Regions from separate parts of the Homo sapiens genome. Here all the other regions are linked to region 1. Evidence: fine-mapped expression QTL. A gene starts in region 1. Each other region holds a variant in brackets. All regions are shown on one strand. Distances are between the middles of the regions.

Region 1 (10,656 bases):
CTGAGCCTCAGTTTCCTCATCTGTCAAATGCAGACAATATCCCTTTTCATTCCTAACCCTGGCTGTGGCTAGAAGATGGGGGGATGAAATGGGTTCTGCAAACTGTAGAGTACTGCACGTGCTGCACACCCCTAAAGGCTTCAGTCCTGGCCTGGAGGAGTTGCCAGGAGACGCTGTGGAGGGGATATAGGAACAGAACAGGCAACCCTCTCCCCCATAGGTCACAATGAAAGAAAATCTAGTCATGTGAGTCACAAAGCATCCCCCCATATTCCGATAAAGTAGGAAGTGGGCTTGTCTTTGGTGCAACACACAGGACTCCTCGGTGACAGCTTTTCTCAAAGATGCCCAGTGAGTTTGCTCTCCAGCACCCTCACTCCCTTAACCAACAGGGTCATCTGTTAGAAGAAACTGCCAAGCCTCGCCAGCCCCACGCTGATGCCAGCCCTGGGAGCTTACACACAAAAGCTGTCCTTCAAAGCCACTACAGCAAACCCAGTGGCTTGCTCTGGATCCAAACCCTGGCACCTCCACCTCACCAGCTGTGCAGCCTTGGAGACCTTACTAATAAACTAAACTAATGCTCAGTTTCCTTGTCCAGAAAATGGGAGGACAGCCCACCAGATGCCCCAAGATGCAGGGCTCCCAGGATCACAGACTTCGGACAGTGGAAGGCAGAAGGTCCCTCAGAGATCATCAGGTCCAAGTCTTCACTTTATCAAGGGAGCCCAGAGAGGGGACACGCCTCATCCAAAGAAACACAGCAAATTCGCAACAGGGCTCCTAGAAGAGTGGATGCCGACCATGACTGCACCCTACTCCCTCCACCACCAGCCTCCCTGTGGCCCACTCAGGAGTGGCCACCTCCTCTTAGAAGGACACATAACCCTCAGCATCCCCAAGCTCAACCAGCATGTGGCTGCCTTCCTGCCTTTATCCATGCAATTCTTTTCTTTTCTTTCTTTCTTTCTTTCTTTCTTTCTTTCTTTCTTTCTTTCTTTCTTTCTTTCTTTCTTTTTTTTTTTTTGTAGAGACAGGGTCTCACTATGTTGCCTAGACTAGTCTCAAACTCCTGGACTCAAGGAATCCTCCCACCTTGGCCTCCCAAAGTGCTGGGATTACAAGCATGGGCCACTGTGCTTGTCCATGCAGTTCTTGCAGCCAGCAGTGTCCTTCCCCACTATTCTCCATCTACCCAAATCCCCAAATCCTCCAAAACCCTGCTCAGCGCATGTCCTTTATGAAGCACTTCCAGTGGTTGGACAGCACCAGTCTCCATCACTAGGAAGCACCTGGCAGGATGGCTACAGTTTACAGAGTGGGGTCCTCACAGGTTTGACTCTGTGTCCCCAAGCCTGGCACAGGGCTGGACACTGAGTGGGCCTCAGGAAGCACTAGTAGCCCAAAGAACGGACAGAGGACTAGGAAATGGAAGAGTGAACAGGCCAGTGACCTGGCGAGTGAAGGAAGGGCTGAACAGGTAAACAGGTGATGATGTGAGCAAATGAATGGCCACAGGGGGAAATGCCTGGCCAGGGGCACACCTCTAAAGATGCCAGGTCTGCCCCAGCATGGCCCCTCTCCCTCTTGTAGAGACTTTGGGGTCCCACAGACCTGCTGGGACTTTAGGGGCTACAGGCCTGTAACTCCCACAGATCCTGGCTAAATGCCTCTGGGTATGCAGACCCAGCTGGAGGCCAGGAACGCACATGGACAGTCATGTTGGCAATGGCCTGGCCAAGTCTCCCCCCATTCCCCAGAGCCCAGCCCTCCACTCAGAATGGACCAGGTCGTCAAAAGTCAAAAGAAATGGATGAGTGCACACGTTGAGCCAAGACATCTTCTCAGCACCAGAGGAATGGCGTGAAGAGACAGGCACGACCCTGCCCTTCTCCACACCAGCCACACCCAGAGACATCCAAGAAGGATGGGCACGGGGTAATGAAGCAGAGGCCCACGGGGCTGGGCGGGTGGTGACAGTGACACAGCCTGGCCTGGGCATCGAGGAAGGCTTTCTTTTGGAAGCGATGCTTAAGCTTGGGTGATGAGCAGTAGTGAAACAGGCACGTGGGAGAAGGGGGCTGGGGATGTTCAGGCAGAGGAGCCAGCATGTGTGAAGACCCTGAAGCTGGAGGGAACGTGGCCTGTTCCAGGAACTGAAGGCCCGCCAGGGGGACCCGAGCCAAAGAGGGAGGGGGTGGGGAGCAAGAGGTGGCTAGAAAGTAGCTAGTTGGGGGAGGGGGAGGTTGGGTTTCATCCTGGGAGCCATGACATTTATTGAGTACCTACTGTGTACTTTCTATAAAAAAAAACCCTGCATTCAAGATTTTATTAATTCACATTTCAGAATGTTTAAATGAAAGTGTTCAAATGCACTGATGTTAGCAAATGCGATTTTCTAATGCTTTTCTGAATGAATGAATACCCATCACGGAAGTATAGGAGGGTAGGGACCACCTGCTTCTGTCACATACGGTGCCCGGGATACAGTTCCTCAGAGCCTCCCCATCATGTGAAACTGCTGGCATTTACGAAGCCTGTGGCTCACAAACCACACAAGAACCTAATGAGATGTCAGTGGGTGCCCCGATACATCCGATACGTCAGCGTCTCCCGAAAGCTCCAAAGCACACATTCTCTCCTAGTTCCCAAGTGCTGCACAGCCTTCCTTCAAAAACACCAACTCAGCTGCCAGGCAGCTTCACGCCCGGGGCACAGCCCTCAGACCTGCAGTTCCATCTCAAGGCTGGCACCCGGGGTTCCACATAACCCAGCCATCAGGTCCCGTCCAGCTCACAGTTTCTCTTCAGCATGGACACTGTCTCCAATGCCTGACACAGGCTGCCTCCCCCAACAAAAAAGAGGCTCCTGGAGGTGGGGACCCTGTCAGCCATTGCACTCCCCAGCGCCCAGCACAGGCCTCACCAGGCCTCTGGCAGGTGAGTACGGGGTCGCCATGGACACCACACACGGGCACACTCCCAGAAGTTGAGTTGCGCTGTCCCAGCTCCTGGAGGACACAGGATCCCTGGCCTACCCCTGCCACAGCGGGAGACAGGCACTCTAGCCAGCCCCACGTGCACAGCCAGCGTCTCCGGAGCTGCTGGGAACACACTCGGAGTCTGCTGCTGACTGGCCCCGACAGCCGGCTCTAGGGCCTGGTGGTGGCTCCAACACTCCAGCCACCCATCGGCCAGGCCAGGGCACCAGCTCTGCAGCCCCACCCTGGGACCAGGCAGCCCAGTGCCCTCTGGCAGAGAAGGCAAGAGAGAGGTGGCCACCAAGGAGGGACAGAAACAGGGCTCTTCCAACAGGCATTCTAGGAGATGGTCCTGTACAACTGATTCCCACCACTTCCAGCTGGCGGAAAACAGCCCCCTCCCACAAGTGAGGGCTCAGAGGCAGAGAGAGCCAGGACTCCCCCCTCCCTACTGGGGACTAGGCTTGGAGAGGAGGTGCAGTGGAGGTAGAGGCAGGGCAGGCCAGTCCCCCGGGGGCTGGAACTGCAGCCCCCTCCCGCTATGTCATTTCCACTTCCAGGCAGGTGGGGGTGCCAGGAACCCTCTCCCCATCAGCGCTGCCCTCCAAGCTTAGGGCTTCCCATTCTCAGGGCACCTCCTCTACCCACCGCTCCCGGCACAACTGGCCTTTGCCAATCACAACCCCTCCCCCATTTCATTTTTTCCCACATCAACAGTCTCTGACAGCCCCTCTCTGCAACACAGGCAGCGGAGGAAGAAGGGGAGAAGGGCCGGAGGGATGGAGGGATGGAGGGATGGAGGGATGAAGGGATGGAGGGGGATCGGAGCGGCAGGTTCGGCCAAAAGAGACCAAGGGCCATTACACGTCCAGGTAGCACCTGTCCCCTTCCAGCAGGCCCAGCACATCTGGACCCAGCTGGTCCCCGCGGCCACCTGGTCCATCCGCCACCAGCTCTGAACGCGAACCCCTGTCTCCGCGGGGCGCCGCACGTGGGGGCCTCCGGTAGCCATGTGAGTGCCCCCCCAGCCCAGGTGCCCGGGTCAGCCCAGCCCCTCCCAGGGACGCAAACAGGGAGGGGGCGCTATGCAGCGCGGGAGGGGGGTGCTGCCCCCGCCCCCTCCCCAGATGCCAGGTCAGGGAAAGAGCTCGGGAAGGGGGGAGCCGGCGGCTCCCGGGTCTACCGAGACGGGATCCGAGGCAGCTGGGTTGAATGGAGGAATGCCCGGGCCGGCATAGCCCTGCTCTCCCAAGCGCCAAGGTTGGCCGGGCACGGGAGGGGTCCGCCTGACCCCCAGGCCGCCCTGCGGATTAGGGGGCGGGCCTGAGGAGGGGGCTTCCAGGCTTTGGCAGCCGCTTGATATGGGGTACGGGGGAGTCCGCGGGAAAAAGAGCCGGAATGGGGATCCGGTCCCGGACAGGGGTTCCGGGCCCCGGTGCCGCCGCCCCCGATTTGAGGGTCCGGGGAGACATGGATGGGGCGATCCCAACCGGAGAAGGCGCTTCCCAGCCGCACAGCCGGCCCCTCGGACCCGGGATCGGAAGACAGAACTGGCAGGGGAGGGGGCTTTTCTGCGCCAGCGCCGTCCCCCGGTTCAGGGAGGTCTGTCGGGGAGGAGACCAGATCGGGGGGTCTAGCCGAGGGACGGAGCGCGCCGGCCCGGGAAGGGGGTAGGAGCCGCCGCGCGCCACCCCCGCGCCCTCACCTGCGCCGGGCGCCTCGGCCGCCTCCGGCCCGCTCTGCCGTTCCGCTGCGCCGCCGCCGCCTCTCGGGTCCGCTCGCAGGTCCGCGCGCCTAGGCCCCGGCCCCCGCCCCGGCTCCGGCCCGCGGGCGCCCCATGCCTCTCCTCCGGCCGGCGCGGCGCCCCAGATGCGGCTGCGGGAGGAGGAGCCGTGCGGCCCCGGCTCCCCGAGAGCGGCGGGGAGGGGGCGGGGAGAGGGGAGAGGAGCGCGGGGGAGGGGGCCGTGCGGCTGCGCCCAAAACCAGGCGCGGATCGGGCCGCGGGCGCGGGGCTGGGGGGGCCTTGGGGGGGCCCGCGCCGTTCCTGGCGCCCCACCCCCACCCACGCCCCCGCAACCCGGGGGAAGGGGGAGGGTCTCCGCAGCGGGCGACCGCTCTGTCGCGATCCGGAAGAGCGCTTGGAAATCCGGGGCCGCCAGTCCAGAGAGGGCAGGCTACTGGAACAAGGTCACACAGCGCGGGCCGCGGTGGCACGGGAGCCTGGAACCCCAGGCTACGGGGCGGGCCGGCAGGAACCTGTGTTGACCATCGCCGCCCCGTGGAGGAGGGAAACTGAGGCCCAGAGAGAACGAGACTGGCCCGGGTCACACCGCGCCAGTCAGGAACCACCCCACCCCCGAGAACTTGGGGCTCCTGCCTCTAGGAATGGGTGCCCCCTCCCGGTGACCTGCTTCCGCAGAACCCTCTCCCAGGTGTCTTCTAGCCTCTGGCTGAACGGGGGTTAAATGCAGTCTCTGGAGTGGGATGAACCTGAACTGCGTACCAGCCCTGCCTCTCCTGGCTCTGTGGTTACAGACAAAAGACTGTCCCTCTCTGAGCCCCATTCCTCCACCTGTAAAATGGGGACACCACGAGTCTCTATCCCCAACTTGGGTGAGAAACCAAAGAGATCATGGGTATGAGCTCTTTACCGGTGCCTGGCATTCAGTAGGTGTCAAATGAATGTGCCTGCCTTCTCTGGCTCCCACACACAGCCATCTCCAGAGAATGCCTCTGAATGCAGAAGGGTCAGAATGGCGTGAAAGGGTGGCCTGCAAGGCTCCTCACAGCCCTGTTCCAGTCTCCTCCACCACCCACCCACCCTGCTCACATCCCCAACCCAGTGATGACTGTTTCAGTGCCCAGCCTCTGCCTTTCCCTGTGCCTGCCATGCCCTCCCACCTCTCTACCTGACAAACTCCTACTCATCCATCAAGGCCCAGAGCAATCTGTTTCGTACCCCAGCTTCTCACACTCCCTACTAGTCTACCCATATTTCCTTTCTCCAGAACACATTCCCCTTTCCCCAGTGTCTGGTCTGGGTTTGTCTCTATCTTCTCTGGCTCTAACAACTGGGGTGAGAGGAGGTCACTCAGAGGAGATGACACCCTGAGGCCCAGCGCTGCCCAAGAGGGCTTCCTGGAAGAGGCAGGGCTTCAGTAAAGCCTGGATGGAAAGGTGAGTTTAACACCTGCATGCAGCAGGCAAAGAGGTGGCATGTTTGGGCAGGGTGTCAGCAAGGAGGAGAGTGGGCTCCCTGGAGCAGTGGGAAGATCTTGGCGAATGAGCTGGGAGCCAGCGAGAGCCAGGGGCTGGACAGCGACCTGGCGGTATATATATGATCAGGTTGAAGATGAGCAGGCTTTGCCCTCGAGAACACCTCACATGGGGGCCCGGGAGGCTTGCACAAGGATGCTCATAGCAGCATCGTTTGTAATAGTGAAAAGCTGGACACAGCCTAAATGTCCATCATTTGGAAACTGGATAAATAGCAACACATTCAGACAATGGAAAACTGTCTGTGATCCACAATCCTCAAAATAGGTGATTGCAAGCTTATGCATTGTGAGGCTGAATCTCAAAAACACACTGTTGATTCAGTTTGTGAAAATCCAGGGTTGTACACTTACAATTTGTGTGCTCTTTGTATGAATGCTATACTTCAATACAATTTTTAAAATAAAAATATATATTGTTGGATGGAAAAAGCAAGTTGCAGATGGAAAACATAATTTCATGCCAGATACATAAAGTTTGAAAACACACAACACAATACCATATATTGTTTAGCGACACATACATATGTAATACAAGTGTAAAAGCATGCATGGGAGTGATAGACAGCAAATTCAAGAGAGTAGTGACCGTGAGGGAGAGAGGGAAGGGAATGTTGTAGTAAGGGCTTTAAATATACTTGAAGTGGTTTATGTCTTAAGCCGGGGTGGTGAGCACATGGGTGTTTGTCATGTTGTTCTCTAGACTTTTTTGTGGACATAAAATATTCCTATTGTAATACTTTTTTGTTTTGTAGAAAGTCAGGTGGTGCCTGGGAAGGCAAGGGGGTGCCATTGCTGGTTCTTGAGCAGGAGTGTGACATGGCAGTGGACTGGAACAGGCAAGACTAGAGAAAGGAATGTCAAGGAGGCTAGTGTGATGGCACAGGGGAGAGATGCAAAGCCCTGAGTGGGAACAAGGATGGGGTTATGGGGAGGAGGGGAAGGAAGGGCAAGTTTTAGAGGAACAAGCATTGGGCACGCTTAGGCAAGGGTCACAAACCCAAATGCCCACAGGGCTTGGACAGGTTGTTTAAGCAAGTTGTGAGCCTGGAGTTGTGGGGACTGTGACACATGGTCCAGCAGGGGCAGCCCCTACTCAGCACTAGCTGATTTTGCCATCTAGGGAAGGAGACAGTGGAGCCATATCTTATTTTTTCAAGAGAAGCTAGCAGTTAAGATTTTCTGAAATGTAAAACTTCAGAAAATCCCTGAAAATAATGGCAACTAGAGTGAAAAAATTGTTAACTCTATGCAAACCAAGCCATATAGGTTCACAGTCTCTCCAGTGAGGAAGAGACTTCAGGAGAAGAATGAAGGGACAATGACACCGAGTTTTCCTGCCTGTGAGGCTGAGGAGGCTCACAACCTAAGCAGCAATCAGAGAGGGCTTCCTGGAAGAACTGACACAGGGTAGCGAAAGGGGAAGGCATTTCTGATGGAAAGAACAGTATATGCAAAGGCAGGATTGAGTAGAGTGAGCCTAAAAGAAAAAAGAGCAAAAAACAGGAACAGGCGTTTCACAGAAGGGGAAACATATGGCCAGTAAACATACGAGGAGGTGCCTGACCTCGTTAGTCATGGGGGAAATGTAAGTCAAGACCATGATGAGATGCCACTGCACGCCCAGTCGACTGGCAACAATGAGAACGTGGGACAATACCAAGAGCTGGGGAAGCTCTAGCTCAGTGGCAGCTCCGAAGCTGCGGCCGAGAGGGTGATCTGGGCCACCCACTGCGACCCAGCACTTCCACTCCTGATGTGTATGCCCAAGAGAAACCCATGCAGAGGTACACTCGGCCAGTGCTTCTCAAACGTGAATAAGCCAGTGAATCCCCCAGGGGTCTTGTTAAAATGCAGATTCAGTTCTGGCGGGGCTAGGGCAGGGCCCCAGACTCTGCATTTCTAACAAGTTTCCAGGTGATGCCCGGGCTGAGGATGCCCAGACTGCATTTTGCAGAGCTTTAGGATTTACGCGCAGGAACAGCCACACAGCACTGTTTGCAATAGCAGAAGACCAGAAGACAGCCTGACTGTCCATCGACGGGAGAATAAAAAAAGAAATAAATAATGGTATAGTCACATACAGCCTTCAGAACAAATAAATCATGATTACATACAGCAACATGGCCACATGCTCATCAACAGCATTGAGCTAAAAAGAAAAGACAAGACTATATACAGTATGGCACTTTTTAACATAAAATTAATAAACAAGTAAAAACAAACTACATATTAATTAGGTATGCATGCATGTAATAACACTAAAAACAAGGAAACTAGGGGAGGATAAACTCAAAATTCAGAATCTTAGTGACCTCCAGCAGAGAGCTGGGGGATGGGATGGGGTGCAGCACAGAGGCAGATGTCAGATACTGATTCTGTTCTAGTTCTTGGGGTGAGCAGTGGCTCAAGGTGCATATGTTAGATTATGCTTTCTACTATCTTGTATTATATACACTGTAGGACTTGATGCACCAATGCTGAAGGCATGTCATGAACCAAGGACTCAGTTTAACTCACTTGTGTGTATCTGAAGTATGTATTTTTAAAAAGAGAGAGAGAAACTCATAGAGACAAAGACAGAAAAAGAGATGGAGAGGTCCACAGAGATGCAGTGAAAGTGGAATATAAACCAGGTCTGTAATTTGATAATGATTAAATCCGGATAATGACCATATCTAGCTAATGATGACATTGAGCTTGTACCAAACCAGTCTTGGCCAAACCCCATGACTCAGGTACAAGCTCTGCAGTTTCTCCTGAAGACAACAAGCTGTTTCACACCTCAGCCTTTACCTGAAATGCCTCTTCTCCCATTGTGTAGTCACCTTTCAAAATTCAACTCGAATGTCACCTATTCTGGGGAAATCACCCCTGACTTCTATGTCTCATTCTATGTCTCATTCCTGGTTTTATACCCCCAAAACACTTTATGATGACAAAGACACACCACGTCTCAAAGCAAATGCTGTTGGTGCCCATCTTGAATTCTGCTGCAGCCTTGGTGGACAGCTCCTGAACTCTGGTCTGCTGCAAGCACCCACCAGGTCTCTCCACTTTTCTGCCTGATGGCATTTTCTGAAGTTGCAAGAGCTTGTCCCATCCAAGCACAGGACGGCTTGGAAATGCAGGAGAGTAAGGCCCCCAGCAGAACCTTCAGTCCCTTGGGGAAAAGAGTCACAGAGGAAATGCTGCAGCCTCCGAGCCTTCAGGGAGACAGTCTCAGGCACGCTTTCCACTGTTCTTCAGAACGTCCCCAGCAAGATGGAGCTCCAGTGGCCCACAGTGGTGCCCTGCTGGCAAATGCCCATCTGACTGACTTTCCCTCCTCCTCTGCCTCCCTCCTGCAGACTAGGATCACCTCTCAGATAAACTACCTGCACTCAAGTGCCTGTTTCAGGGTCCACTTAGGGGGAACCCCCGCTTAGGCACACCTGTTACTTCCTCCTCTCCCACAAGACTGGAAGTAGCTCCTTGGGGTTCAGGCCACATTAAATTAATATCAAAGCATGGTATTTGAGACCTGCACAGTTATACCTGTAATCCCAGTGTTTTGGGAGGCTGAGGCAGGAGGACTGCTTGAGGCCAGGAGTCCAGGGCCAGCCTGGGCAACATGGCGAGACCCCATCCCTACAAAATTAAAAAGTTAGCTGGGTGTGGTGGAGCATGCCTGTAGTCCCAGCTACTTGGGAGGCTGAGGTGGGAGAATCACTTGAGCCTAGGAGGTCAAGGCTGCAGTGAGCCGTGTTTGTACCACTGCACTCTAGCCTGGGTGACTGAGGGAGACCCTGCCTCAAAAAAATTTAAAAAGGCAGCATTTGACAGTCTGGGTTCATACCGTGTGCTGCTTGCATCATATGAACTTGGCCAGGCTCAGCCAAAACAAGCAGAAGATTCTCAAACTTTTAATGACACTTAATGACATGTATCCCAGGGGAGGGGAGCTATGCAGAATTACCTCCTTTTTTCTCCTCTCCTATATTTTCCAAATTTTCTATATTGTCCAAATTTGTTCCAAAATAAATTTCTAAGTGTCATGTATTCCTTTGCTCTATTTTGATTTGTTTTCCCGGTGTGGGGGAGTGTGGGCTCTGGAGTGAACAGGCCTGGATTCATATCTTGGCTCTGTCACACACTGGCTGTGACTGGGCAAGTTACCCAACCTCACTGGGTCTCAGTTTCCACATTCAAAAAATGGACACAGCCCAAAACAACACAAACATCTACTTTGCAGGGTGGCTGGGACTGTTATAATGGAAGCACGTTGTGAACCACAAAGTGAATTGCAAGGCTGAGTTATCGTCTTCCCCGGGGCTGGCATCAGGCCTGGCATGGAGGAGGTGCCTGGGAAATGTTTAGAGAACAAAATGATTGAGGCTAGGAGTAGCAATTTCACACTGT
Region 2 (9,685 bases), 350 kb before region 1:
CCAGACTGAGCTGTTGATCTTGCAAGATGATTCTCATACCGAGCTATTTCGTTTTTTTTCCTAGCAACTCATAAAATTATTTTCTTCTCTTTTTTTAAATTTTAGGTCGAATGCAATTCCCGCCTGAACCCTATAAATACAACTTTGCTAAAGGTAATGTGCCTTCTTCCCTCACTTCCAACCCTTATATGTGCTTCAGATTAATCATATTTTCTGGAATAATTGCTTAGAAAGGAGCAAAGCTTCCCTCTCTTTGGTTATCTCATTCTCTTCTTTTTCTTTGAGACAGAGTCCCGCTGTGTTGCCCTGGCTGGAGTGCAGTGGCGCCATCTCAGCTCACTGCAACCTCCACCTCTCGGGTTCAAGCAATTCTCCTGCGTCAGCCTCCTGAGTAGCTGGGACTACAGGCACGTGCCACCATGCCCGGCTAATTTTTCGTATTTTTAGTAGAGACGGGGTTTCACCGTGTTAGCCAGGGTGGTCTCGATCTCCTGTCCTCGTGATCCACCCACCTTGGCCTCCCAAAGTGCTGGGATTACAGGTGTGAGCCACCGCACCCAGCCTTCATTCTCTTTTTAAAATAATCCTTTTGGCCAGGTGCGGTGGCTCACACCTGTAATCTCAGCACTTTGGGAGGCTAAGGCAGTTGGATCACGAGGTCAGGAATTTGAGACCAGCCTAGCCAATATGGTGAAACCCCGTCTCTACTAAAAATACAAAAATTAACTGGGCATGGTGGCCCACGCCTGTAGTCCCAGCTACCTGGGAGGCTGAGGCAGGAGAATCACTTGAACCTGGGAGGCGGAGGTTGCAGTGAGCTGAGATTGCACCACTGCACTCTAGCCTGGGCGACAGAGCAAGACTCCATCTCAAAAATAAATAAACAAATAAATAAAATAAAGCTTTTTTCCTGAATATGTTCTCATTGTAAAACACTGCAAAAAAGAGGAAAGCATATGGAATAAAATAAATTTAAATTATTTGTAATCCTACCACCCAAACCTCTGGTAAAATACTGCTGTCTTTTTCCTATACATTTTTACATCATTAAAATTAGAGACGGGCTGGGCACGGTGGCTCACACCTATAATCCCAACACTTTGGGAGGCTGAGTTGGGCGGATCACTTGAGTCCAGGAGTTTGAGACCAGCCTGGGTGACAGAATGAGACCCTGTCAAAGAGTATTTACAACCCTGTATCTGTTTTCCTCAACTTTATGACATAGCCTTTCCCATGTAACTAAAAACTTTGGCTGGGTGCAGTGGCTCACACCTATAATCCCAGCACTTTGGAAGGCCGAGGTGGGAGGCCAGGAGTTCGAGAGCAGTCTGGGAAACATAGTGAGACTCTGTCTCTACAAAAACAATAAGAAAATTAGCTGGGCTTGGTGGTGCGCATCCGTAGCCCCAGCTACTCAGGAAGCTGAGGCGAGAGGATTCCTTGAGCCCAGGAATTCGAGGATTTGTGCTCCTGATGCTGCACTCCAACCTAGGTGACAGAGTGAAACCCTGTCTCTAAAAAAAAAAAAAAAAAAACTTCGTCAACATGATTTAATATTGTGAGAAGATAATGGATGTAAATTCTGTATATGCAAAATCCTGCTGTATTGGTAAGGAAGCTTTTAGTAACAATTCTTATGATGAGGGTGGATGCATTTTCTTTCTCTTAGGGCAAATACAGACCAACTCTTATGCTAAATATCTAGAGTTAGTATCAAGTGTCTCCCCTTTTGAGTATAACCGAGGCAAGAGTTTCTGCCTGTCATTGTTTCATCTTAGCTTTTCCTAGAGCCTCTACTAAAGTGTTGAGGTAGCTGACCTTCTAGTTTGAACTTGGGAACTTGGACTACTGTAGATTTCAATGCCGATCGTATGTTGCTTACTGCTACATTTTCAGTCTGAAAGACCTCTGCCATCTTCCTTTTCCCTTTGAAGTGTGTTTGAAAGGGAAGTGCTGTTACCACAAACGCCTGTAGTTCCTAGAAATCTAATGTGAAGTTAATGCTCTGAGGTGACCACATTCAAAATGTTCTGCCCTCCAGGCAATTGATGGGCTGGTCTAAAAATTTTGGGGAGGGGCTGGGCATGGTGGCTCACACCTGTAATCCCAGCACTTTGGGAAGCTGAGGCCAGGAGTTCAAGACCAGCCTGCCCAACATGATGAAACCTCATCTCTACTAAAAATACAAAAATTAGCCGGGCATGATGCT[G/A]GGCACCTGTAATCCCAGCTACTCCAGAGACTGAGGCAGGAGAATCGCTTGAACCTGGGAGGTGGAGGTTGCAGTGAGCCAAGATTGCACCATTGCACTCCAGCCTGGGCAACGAGAGTGAGACTTTATCTCAAAAAAAATTTTTTTTTAAGTTTATAGTTTCAAATTAGTTTCTCATTTCAGGTTTGAATCAATATACAAAAGCATAAAACTAAACCCTACAATAACCATAGACATAGTTATTTTTCGCAAAAATGCCCATCTACAACACCATAGAATAGAGTGGATAACTCCTATGGCAGATTGAACTGATTCTCAAACCATTTGATAGGTACCCATCTTGGAAATAGTTTCTCCCAGTATTCTCTCTGCATATGGGAACTGTTCTGTGTTCTAATCAGGTTTCAGCTCCTAAACTTCATGAAAATACAGTCTGTGCTGGTTTGGTTTTTTTGTATATTTGTTAAATGTTTGTTTATAATCTTATGCTTAGAATTTTCAGGGGCCTCTCCCTTGTTAATCTCAAACTTCTGCGTCTTCTGTGGCATTCTCCTCAGTAGTAGTCCCCCTTCATAATAAGTTTTAATGCCAGTGAATTGAAACCATGGGGTTCATGTTCCTTTTTAAAAAAAGCCAGTCAGCCTGAAGAATACCATCTGAGTCCAGAGTGTGTAACAGCTGGAAGAAAGAGAGCAGGCCTATGGCCAACATGCCCTAAAAACGCTTTTCTGTGGACAGTAGATTCAAATCACCTGAGATCTTATTAGAAATGTACGTTCCTTTTTTTTTTTTTTTCCTGGAGACGGACTCTGTCGCCCAGGTTGGAGTGCAGTGGCATGATCTTGGCTCACTGCAACCTCTGCCTCATGAGTTCAAGTGATTCTTCTGTGTCAGCCTCCAGAGTAGCTGGGACTACAGGTGTGTGCCACCACGCCCGGCTAATTTTTGTATTTTTAGTAGAGATGGAGTTTCACCATGCTGACCAGGCTGGTCTGGAACTCCTGACCTCAGGTGATCCCCCCGACCTCGGCCTCCCAAGGTGCTGGGATTACAGGTGTGAGCCACTGCGCGCGGCCAGAAATGCACAATCTCGAACCATACCCCAAACCTATCAAATCAGAATCTCTGGGATAGGAATCCAAGAATCTGAGTTTTAACAAGTCCTTCAGGTAATTCCAGGGCACACTAATGAAGCCATACCCTAGAAATCCTTGCACACGTGAGAATAACCAGCTGTAAATGTTTATGAAGTGAAAAGCAGCATTACCAAACCCAGCTATTAGAGGAAAGTGGCTGACTGAGCAAGCCGGCTGAATCAGTATCAGCTCCTGATGGCAGAGTGCCCTTACTCACGGAGGAAAGATAATGTAGAGTTGAAATGGGACTTGGAAAGCTTGATGCACAGAGAAGTTAGGGTCACACTGTTCGAGGGCTCTGAAAGGAACCTTCTTCAGGTGGTTTTCATGGTTGAGAGTAGTGGTTAACTTCACTATCACCTCAACAGAAAATTCCCACCATGGGCCTGAAAGTCAGGGCTTCAGTCTTATTGATAAATAAGTATGTAATAATTATTTCAGATTTTCATCCAAGGTTATAAATGTTTGTACGTAGGTGCATTGAGATGCAAACTTGCAGTTAAACATTAAAACCTAGAATTCAATCTTGTTCTGTTTGAAAGGACTTGGGGTGTTCAGAGCAATTCTCTTAAGGGTAAGTCCCAGCTGACTTGCATATTTTTCCTTTTCTAGATGGCGGACTGTGGGGGACTGCCCCAGGTAGTTCAGGTAAGGAGAATTTTTTTTAAACACCCATTTAATTCTGCTTCTCTGTCTATGCAAAAATTAATGCCCTCTTGTTTTATCCCCCCAGCCTGGGAAGCTCACCGAGGCCTTCAAGTACTTTTTGCAGGGAATGGGCTACAGTGAGTAGTACACAACTTTCTATCTAGCAACGATTTAGGAATATTGGGAGCCAGTTTCACATCTGGGAGCCCACAATTCTTGAGATATAACCTCTGTGGCAGCTAGCCTTAAGCAAAGTAGAAACTGAAATGTTTATGGAACATTCATTTGTCCGTATTTGTAAGCTAACACTCAGCACTTACTTTCATCAGGCAATATATATTCTTTTTTTTTTTTTTTTTTTTTTGAGACAGAGTCTCACTCTGTTGCCAGGCTGGAGTGCAGTGGTGTGATCTCAGCTCACTGCAACCTCCGCCTCCTGGGTTCAAGCGATTCTCCTGCCTCAGCCTCCCAAGTAGCTGGGACTACAGGCATGTGCCACCACACCCGAATAATTTTTGTATTTTTAGGAGAGACGGAGATTCACCATGTTGGCCAGGATGGTCTTGATCTCTTGACCTCATGATCTGCCTGCCTTGGCCTCCCAAAGTGCTGGGATTACATGCGTGAGCTACCGTGCCCAACCTATATATTCTTAATCTAAGAAGTCATTCTGTTATTAGTGCCAATTTATAGAAGAAGAAACTGAGGCTCAAAGAGACTAAGCACATTGCCAAGGGTAAAAATTCAGCTGCAGGGCCATGATTCAAACCCTGACAGTCTGACTCCAGAGCCCACATTTTGAACCCCTGCAGCTTAGGCTGTCCTAGGTGTGAATCTGAAATTATGATTTGCATTTAAACTCAGCTGGTTAATAACTCCTGACCTAGAGAAATGAAATGGAGACTCCAGGAGAAAAGGGCAGTATCCTTGGTAAAGTCTCCTCCACCCCAGGGGACGAACTTGGAGAGTGTTTTAGAGCAAGTCCAAGGGTGTGTCCATATCATATGCCATTGTCCTGGTCTCTTGTATTGTAAGACCTCTGAGCTTTTTCATGGTCACAGAATTATCTACACTTGCTCCTTTCTTGGAGTTTTTAGAAAAACTCTTTCACCCAGGTACAGAGCTCTTTACCCAGTAGGGTGATTTTTCTCCTGTCTTTGGTATTAGTGTGGATAATGGTCATTGGCGAGCTGTCTGGTCAGCTGCTCTGGGCAGCTGGGCCCTGGGTGCAGCCCTGTACCTGCCAGGCAGACCATGTATGTCTTGTCTCAAGTGGCTGTGTCATCCTTGCCTGTGAGCCGCTACCAACCGAGCCCACACCCACAGCCCTGTGGCTCACTGGGAGGAGCAGGAGGCCCTCTCCTAGTCCATTCTTATCCTTTTCCTATGAAATAGCTGATCTTCCAGCCCACTTCTGATCCAAAGCAAGATGACTGTTTATAGCAGAGGGGAAAACAATTGCCTTTGTCTAGTTGAGGAAAGTAACATTTGAGATGTTATTGAAGTATCTGTCAGCCTCACCTCCTCTCTGGGACCTTAAAATAAAATTTTATCCCTGGCTTAGAGTATTCTGTCAGTGTCTACCAGGCAGCTGAGGTTGCCACTTGGCACTCTGGGGTCACTAACCTGCCTTTTCCTGTGTCCATCCTGCTTCCAGTCCCGTATGTGCAGCTCAGTCACCTGAGCACCGAGTCAGGTACCTTCCTCTGTGCTGGCCCTGCCCCGCCTTCCAGTCTCTCCTGGCTGCACTGGCTGCCTGCAGCATGTCCGCGGTCTTCCTATGCAGTGAGAGCCCGATAGAACGTGGCTCAGTACGCCCCAAGAGATTTAGCCTACAGGTCCAGCCCTGGTCCCCCAGGAGGAGGAAAGGATCTGGTTGTAAGGGGCAGGCCTCCTCTTGTCATCCTAAATCCAGGGTCACAGCAGCAGCTGAAACTTGATAGGCAGGGCCCATCTTCCACCACCACCTACTGATCCTTGAATTAACCTCCAGACACAGGAATCCAAGGGCAGCCTTGGCTCTAAATAGGAGGGTCAGAGCCTGTGCCCAGAGAACTCTGCAGATGATAGCACCTTTTGACCCCAGCATTGAAATGACAGCTAGGGGAGTGGCTGCTGCCCAGGACGATAGGCAGGGAGGCTATGCCAGGTAAGGCCCAGTCCCAGCCAAGCTGGAAGGACCTTAGAGTCAAGCAGTGGCAGAACAGGAGTCTGAGTTAAACACCTGCTTCTCTGTCCCTGGCAACCTGTACCTCATCCCTGTGTTGAGGTCAGCTCCAAGCCAATCTGCCCTCCCCTTCACCTGCACCATCCTACAAATCTCCTCCCTGGTAGCAAGGTAGCCTGTGGACACGGATGGTAGTCTCGTTGTATCGGGCTTGCACTGTGTTTGTGAAACACCTTCATACTTGTGTGTGTGTCTTTCTTTTCTTTTGGTTTAGTCTTGCATGCACTGTAGGTTTTGGTTACCTGTTTGGGTTCCCAAAGCCTCCATTCTGTCACTGTCTGAATGGTGTGGGCATAGTTAAGAGGCTATACTCTGGATTTAGGGTTTCCCCTTGTTCTGCGGTGACTACAATCAGCTGAGATTCCAACCAGATCTAAAGGATTAAAGTGGCCTCACATATCGCCACTCACCTAGAGCAAATGATACAAAATGGGGATGGCTATATCTTGTCCTGGGTGTCATGGTAAATGAGTCGGAAAAGCTAAACATAAAGACTTTGATGAGACTCCTAGGTTAGCTGGGCTTAACCGGGGCTTCATCTTCTAGTCCCCTTGGTTCTCTGTTACAGTACCATCTGCCAGCATGACTCGGCTCGCCCGATCACGAACCCACTCAACCTCGAGTAGCCTCGGCTCTGGAGAAAGTCCCTTCAGCCGGTCTGTCACCAGCAATCAGTCAGATGGAACTCAAGAATCCTGTGAGTCCCCTGATGTCCTGGACAGACACCAGACCATGGAGGTGTCCTGCTAAGCAGATGCTCCTCCCCTGGACCATTGCAAGTCCATCCTTCAAATGACCACTCCATAATATAACATTTCATCCAGTAAACTGGCCTCTACTATCTTTAACTCATGCATGGCCACTGAACCTCTCTCTAGTAGCCTGGATTTATCATTCTCTCTGCCTGCCCACCCCCTTTTTTGTATAGCCCAAGAACCACTTCCATGCCATACTGTAACATTCCAACATCTTTAGCTGATCAGATCTCTCCATATCCTCTCTTGCCAGCTTTTTCCCGTGCTCCCCCAACTATGTATCAGATAAGATTCTTTGATCCCGACTCTGTGTGTGCGAGCACGCGTGTCTGTGTTTGTGTGTGCATAGTTCTGTGGTTTTAGACACGCTTTCTTGTAGTGCTTCTGCAAAAAACAAAAAAGGGACTTATTTTGCATTCTCAATGGTGTTTTTAAGGGAATTAGGCAGAACAGATTTCTAGGTTGGGTAGGCCACTGCATTCTCTTTTGTTTGCAAATTGGTCAACAAAATTTGCAAAGTGATTTCAGGAGAGAGCAGCTTTGAGGAATGTGGAAAATCATAATTGCCGTCTGGACCATTGATTGATTGTGACCAGTAGCAGAAGGGTGCCTGTTACATAGAGAGGCTCCTTCTGTCCAAATGAATTTCTGTATACTCTTCTATAAATAAAAGGGAGGAATATATTCTGCTGGAAGCCCATGAACCATCGCTGAGGTTCTGATACAACATAGAGTTTTTTCCAAGGAGTGAATGTGGTTTAATTACTGGACTCTCTTAGCACAGGAAGGTGGAAACAAAATGCCAGGCCTCTGCTCTGAAGAGCAAAACTGCTGTCGCTGCAGTATCTGATACCAGACATCCACATATCCACAAGAAGTGCCTCTTAGGTCTGTGACAGAGAGTGTGTCTCCATTCCTCAGTTCCCAGAAAGGGGAGAGGTTTGGCCTAAAAAGCATGTAGATGGGGGAGAAATGGGTGGGGGGAGAGGAACAGCCATTAACACAGTATCATGTTTAACAAGTATAGCCTTGATTTCAGTAGATGTAATGGAAGCCAAATTAAATTGATACAGAACCCATTTCTCAGAGTCTTTTTTTTTTTTTGAGACAGAGTCTCGCTGTTACCCAGGCTGGAGTGCAATGGCGCAAACTTGGCTCACTGCAACCTCTGCCCCCTGGGTTCAAGCGATTCTCCTGCCTCAGCCTCCCGAGTAGCTGAGACTACAGGCACCTGCCACCATACCCAGCTAAGTTATGTATTTTTAGTAGAGATGGAGTTTCACCATGTTGGCCAGGCTGGTCTCAAACTCCTGACCTCAGGTGATCCACCTGCCTCAGCCTCCCAAAGTGCTGGGATTACAGGCATGAGTCATTGCTCCCAGCCATTAGAAAGATTGTTAATCCTATGAACTCCCTTTTGTAGGAGAGAAAGGGCCAATCTGTAGGGGTAGCCCTGTCCAGGTAAAGTTGTTTTCAGCCTCATGTCTACTGTTAGGTGAGGGAGTCACAGCCAGACAGAGAGTATTGCTGGAGGGTGAGAGAATTGTGGAGACCAACTACCACATAGCAAGAGCCCAGCTCTTGGGAGCATTGAGATGTAAGCTCAGGGTTACACAGTTCCAAATCTTGGGAAGGGGCTTTTCAGACAGACTGTTTGCTTTCTGCTGAGATAAGGAATGCATCACTCTGCCAGAGTATGACTTTTTACAGATTATTAAATAAAGCTGCATATGTCTCATTGTTACCTGATTGCTGGTGTTATTTCTTTCAAGCCATTCACTGGGGTTCAGGGCAGGACCGAGTTGCTGTATGCTGGTTCTGTGTTGCCATTTTCACATGTGATTGCTTATCCACCAAGCGACACTGTCCATTTATAGGAGGAAATGAAGACTGATGATAAATCATTTGCCCAAGGTCATGCAGCCAATAAGTCCAGCCAGGATCAAATCCCAGGGAATTATGCAGAATTCTATCTGATGTGTCTGTATTTCCCTCAAGCCAAAAATCGTGAGAAGCCTGACAGTGTTGTTTGTGATGGAGGAGGAGAAGCTGAGGTCTTGAGAAGGTGGTCCACGTCACAGCTCCACCACCTGTGTGGGATTGCTGGGTTCCACCTCTCATTTTAATAATCTGCAACCACTTGTCTTCTAAGAGACCAGCTTGTGTTTCTCCAGAAATGGCTATATTTGTACCCATCAAGAATAATTTCAGACCGAGTGCAGTGGCTCACGCCTGTAATCCCAACACTCTGGGAGGCCAAGGTGGGCGGATCACCTGAGGTCAGGAGTTAAAGACCAGCCTGGCCAACATGGTGAAACCCTGTTTCTACTAAAAATACAAAAATTAGCCAGGCATGGTGGTATGTGCCTGTAATCCCAGCTACTTGGAAGGCTGAGGCAGGAGAATCACTTGAACCCGGGAGGTGGAGTTTGCAGTGAGCCAAGATCACACCACTGCACTCTAGCCTGGGCTACAGAGCGAGACTGTCTCAAAAAAAAAAAAAAAAAAAAAAGCCAGGCATGGTGGCTCACGCCTGTAATCCCAGCACTTTGGGAGGCCAAGGCGGGCGGATCACTGGAGGTCAGGAGTTCGAGACCAGCCTGACCAATGTGATAAAACCCTGTCTCTACTAAAAATACAAAAAAAAAAAAAAAAATTAGTCGAGCGTGGTGGCATGCACCTGTAATCCCGCTACTCGGGAGGCTGAGAC
Region 3 (5,000 bases), 280 kb before region 1:
TCTGGTCCTGTCTTTTCTCCTAACCTAGCTAACTGCAGCTGCATCTATTCCACAGGTGACTCAAAGACAGCACCAGGCTGTCGGGCTGGAAGGCTCATAGGCAGGGCAGAGCCAGAAGCTTCTGTGGCCCTTCTCTCCCATTCCATTCCAGCCAGGAGGGGCCCTGGCTCTGGGGTCCTTATTTGCCCCTCTTCACCACTATGGTGCTCCAATGCACACACATACCAACAGGCTTCAGTGGACGCTGGTTGAGCTGAATCCTGACTAGAGCTGTGGGAAAACCCTAAAGAGAGGAAGGGCTTAGCAGGGTGTGGTGGCATGTGCCTGTAGTCTCAGCTACTCAGGAGGCTGAGAGAACTGCTTGAACCCACAAGGCAGAGGTTGCGGTGAGTCAAAATTGCGCCACTGCACTCCAGCCTGCGCGACAAAGCAAGACTCCATCTCAAAAAAAAAAAAAAAAAAAAAAAAAAAAGAAGGAAGGGCTCAACAGCTAGGTGGGATGAAGGAAGGGAACAAACTTACTCAAACACCTTTGATAGCAGTATCATGCCAGCCACCTCACTTGCATTATGTTTAATCTGCATACAAGCCTGGAGGGTAGAGGGCAGTGTCCCCAAAGTACTAGAGAGAACTGAGCTCAATGAGAAGAAAGCTCTTGTCCAGTCACACATCTTCCCAGTGCAGAGCTGGGATTTAAAACCAGGCCTCCTGGCTTTAGGGCCTCCACTGCTTTGCTGTGCTTTTTTTTTTTTTTTTTAAAGACAGGGTCTCACTCTGTCACCCAGGCTGGAGTGCAGTGGTGGAATCACAGTTCACTGTAGCCTTGACCTCCTGGGTTTAGGTAATTCTCCCACCTCAGCCTCCCGAGTAGCTGGGACCACAGACATGTGCCACCATGCCCAGGTACTTTTTTTTTGGTATTTTTTGTAGAGATGGGGTTTCCCCATGTTGGCCAGGCTGGTGTCAAACTCCTGAACTCAAATGATCTGCTCACCTCAGCCTCCCAAAGTGTTGGGATTACAGGTGTGAGCCACCACGCCTGGCCTCAGGCACTATTCACATTTCATATCTAATTATTCATTCAATCTCAGCCTATCACACAGGTTATATGATGATCTCCCTTGAAGAAACAGATCGGAGAGGTTCAGAAACTTGTTGAAGGTCACAAGTGCAAAAGCTGGGTTTGATCCAGACAGCCTGGTTCTGGGCAGCCACCCCACTGCCAGCTGAAGAGTGAGAGGGAGTCTTCCTTGCACAGGAGCAGTGCCTGTGTCCTTCTCTCCCTCCCTCCCACAGCTGCCTCCTCCCATACCTGTGCTGCAGGAGTACACTGCCCCTCTCCACCTCAGCCCTGGATGCAGGGGAAAAATGGGCAGGTCACAGTGACCTGGGTCAAGCAAAGTAAGGAGTGTTGTTGAGCAGGCAGCCTCATGGAGGGCAGTCTGGGCATTTCTCAGCATCTGTGTGGGCACCTAGCCCCTAAAGGCACTTCCCACTTTGGCTGAGGGTTCAAGAACAGAAAAACACCCCTCCACACACTCCCCCACAAGACTGTCCTGTCCAGATCACTTGGCAGCCTAGCATCTGTCTGTTTTGTCTTCTTAGCCCAGAAAAATGCACAGCTGAGGGGCTGGGCAAGGCAACGCGGGGGGACTGAGTGGCTGCCAGTGCCCCTTCTGCAGCCCTTCCAGCTGCCCAGCCTGTGCCTAAGTCAGGAAAAGAACCTGTGACTTGTCTCCACTCAAGGTCCTTGGGGAGATGGTAGGAAGAAGGTCAAAGTGAACTCTGTGATGTATATGGCAAAACACAGGCTGGGAACCGGAAAGCCGGTCTCTACCATAAAACAGGGCTCTATCTGAGAGGCTGCTGAGGAACAAGG[G/A]AGGAATCACTGTGGCAAATGGGGGTGGGAGGAACACCAGGAGGCTGACAAAGGCTGTGATGCTGGGAGCAGCAGCTAATGAATGCAGGCAGAAACCCTCTCATTTTTGTGTCAAGGAAGCAAAGGCACTGAGGCGCCTTTCCCAAACATCATGGTACCACCATTCACACTGAGACTACCATATCCAGGTGCTCTTGAAGGCAGCTCTCTGTATTAGAATCACCTTAGGGGAGATTTTTTTTTTTGGGGGGGGGGAAATGGAGTCTCACTTCTTTGCCCAGGCTGGAGTGCAATGGTGCGATCTCAGTTCACTGCAACCTCCGCCTCTCGGGTTCAAGCAGTTCTCCTGCCTCAGCCTCCCAAGTACCTGGGATTACAGGCACACGACAACATGCCCAAGTAATTTTTGTATTTTTAATAGAGACAGGGTTTCACCGTGTTGGCCAGGCTGGTCTCAAACTCCTGACCTCAAGTGATCTGCCCGCTTTGGCCTCCCAAAGTGCTGGGATTACAGGCAGAGCAACCACACCCAGCCTGGGAGAGATTTTTAAAAACTGTTAGTGATTTCCCCCTCTGCTTTATTGATCTAGTGGGGGTGAGGGGTGGAGTTGGCAATGTGTTTTCAGACCAGCTACCCAGAAAGTCTGGCCGCCCAGGCTTAGGAACCAATGGTTTAGCCTACTGGTTACTTGTCCTTGCAGGCCAAGCCCTTTATTTAAGCCAAAAAGCTTACACAGAAGTTCAAAAAACATACACACAGATGAAAGGCCTTGAGATGGGGAAAAATAGAAGTTGCCTGTGGGAGGAATCAGAGGGCAGCTAGCTTTGGAGCCAGAGGAGAGCAGCTCCTACATCCCTGGCTGCCCTGGGGGCTAGGCCAGGACACTCCTCCCCCACAGCTGACCACTACAGCCTCTGCACCAGGTTCCTTTCTCACCCAACAGCCCTCGCCAGGGGGACTGCTGCCCCTGCCCCGGTATGGGCTTTGGGAAGGCTTCCCTCAGGAAACTGCATATGAAAGGAGTCCTGACAGCCAGGAAGTAATGGGAAGGTACCCATTCTACCACTGTATACCCAGCACAGAGTCCCGGGCCTGGCACGTGGTATATCCCCAACCATTGTTACAGTAAAGGATTGGGGCCCAGAACCCTGCCAGGTAGCCACAGATCTAGTCCAACCAATAAATTGGGCTTAGAGGATGTCGAAGGGACCTGTGAAAATCCTTTACAAACTACTTTTTTCCCTAACCCTCCCAACTGCCTAGCCCCAGGCAAGTACCAGCAAACCAGTTAGTTGAGTCATTGACTTGCTAATGAATCGCTCCTGGGAGGGTTAAAGGAGACAATCAAAAGAGATGTCCCCAGGGAGAGATAAAACAAGCTTGGCAAAATGTTGATACTTGTTCAAGCCGAGTGACTGGTGCTGGTGGTTGATTATTATATTCTCTTACTTTTGTGGAGTTTTTTTTTTTTTTTTTTTTTTTAAAGACAGAGTCCCGTTCTGTAGACCAGGCTGGAGTGCAGTGGCATGATCTTGGCTCCCTGCAACCTCCACCACCCCCGGGTTCAAGTGATTCTCCTGCTTCAGCCTCCCGAATAGCTGGGACTATTTTTAGTAGAGACGGGGTTTCACCACATTGGTCAGACTGGTCTACAACTCCTGGCCTCAAGTGATACACCCGCTTCAGCCTCCCAAAGTGTTGGGATTACAGGCGTGAGACACTGTGCCTAGCTTTTTTCTCTTTTTTTTTGAGATGGAGTTTCACTCTTGTTGCCCAGGCTGGAGTGCAATGGCAGGATCTCGCTCACGGCAATCTCCACCTCCTAGGTTCAAAAGTGATTCTCCTGCCTCAGCCTCCTGAGTAGCTGGGAGTACAAGCATGCGCCACCATGCCCAGCTAATTGTCTATTTTTTAGTAGAGATGGGGTTTCTCCGTGTTGGTCAGGCTGGTCCCAAACTTCCAACCCCAGGTGATCCGTTTGCCTCGGCCTCCCAAAGTGCTGGAATTATAGGTGTGAGCCACTGTGCCCAGCCTGCGTTCAGCTTTTATAGATATTCTTAAATGTCCTTAATGGAAAATGAAATTTAAAAAATTAAATACAGGAGGCCGGGAGCAGTGGCTCACGCCTGTAATCCCAGCACTTTGGGAGGCTGAAGTGAGACCACCTGAGGTCGGGAGTTCGAGACCAGCCTGGCCAAAATGGTGAAACCCTGTCTTTACTAAAACTACAAAAATTAGCTCAGCCTGGTGGCAGGTGCCTGTAATCCCAGCTACTCGGGAGGCTGGGGCAGGAGAATTGCTTGAACCTGGGCAGCAGAAGTTGCAGTGAACTGAGATTGCGCCACTGCACTCCAGCCTGGGCGACAGAGTGACTCCGTCTCAAAAAAAAAAAAAATTAATTAATAAATACAGGAAAAAATGATGCTCCCAGGCTTTAGGCTATTTTTCATGATTAGGAGCCATTACATTTCCTTACTTCTGAGGTCCTGCCTGTTGACCCTTCCACCACTTTATAGCCCTTTTCTGCCACTTCAACATTATTTACTGAGCACCTACCTACCAGATACCAAGCACTATGCTACACTAGGGCTGTAACTGTGAACACTAGGTCAGTGCTCTCCACACCTCTAGAATTTGGTGCAGTCTAAAAGCAATTACAGTTTAGTGTCCCAGTGCTGTGACCTCATCTATCTGCTGTGAGAGCATACAGCTCCTTTAGGGACTGGGAGCCTCCTGGTCAGGGGTGGGAGGAAAATGGTCTGGGGAGGTGGATCAATGTAGTGGGAATGTAGGGGACCAGGGTTGAGGTTCAAGATGTAGACACGGGCCGGTGATGTCATTAGGCTGGCAAAAGCCATTGAATTTTTTTTTCTTTTTTTTTGAGATGGACTCTTGCTCTGTTGCCCAGGCAGGAGTGCAATGGTGCAATCACAACTCACTACAACCTCTGCCTCCCGAGTTCAAGCAATTCTCTTGCCTCAGCCTCCTAAGTAGCTGGGATTACAGGTACCTGCAACCACGCCCAGCTAGTTTTTTTTTCTTTTCTTTTTTGAGACAGAGTCTCAGTCTGTTGCCCCGGCTGGAGTGCGGTGGCTCAGTCTCGGCTCATTCCAACTTCCG

Evidence for each region. PIP is the estimated chance that this variant, and not a neighbour inherited with it, causes the effect.
Region 2: its variant is the best candidate, but not a certain one, in a credible set for the expression of DLGAP4 in whole blood (INTERVAL, PIP 0.52).
Region 3: its variant is the best candidate, but not a certain one, in a credible set for the expression of DLGAP4 in whole blood (INTERVAL, PIP 0.59).

Annotation. Positions count from the first base shown.
Region 1 is chr20:36,300,542-36,311,197 of GRCh38, reverse strand. It overlaps DLGAP4 (DLG associated protein 4), which reads right to left and starts at 4,859. Exons shown (of 13, transcript NM_001365621.2): 1 at 4,686-4,859.
Region 2 is chr20:36,650,805-36,660,489 of GRCh38, reverse strand. It overlaps NDRG3 (NDRG family member 3), which reads left to right. Exons shown (of 16, transcript NM_032013.4): 13 at 106-153; 14 at 3,958-3,993; 15 at 4,079-4,130; 16 at 6,789-8,719. The coding sequence ends at 6,970. Among named protein-coding and RNA genes, the nearest start is that of SLA2, 9.5 kb to the right of the region's middle. The variant G/A (reference allele first, on the strand shown) is at 2,210.
Region 3 is chr20:36,583,828-36,588,827 of GRCh38, reverse strand. The region is part of intron 2 of TGIF2 (TGFB induced factor homeobox 2); the gene reads right to left. All of the region lies in intron 2 of TGIF2-RAB5IF (TGIF2-RAB5IF readthrough), which reads right to left. Among named protein-coding and RNA genes, the nearest start is that of TGIF2-RAB5IF, 12 kb to the right of the region's middle. RefSeq lists an enhancer at 2,361-3,350. The variant G/A (reference allele first, on the strand shown) is at 1,880.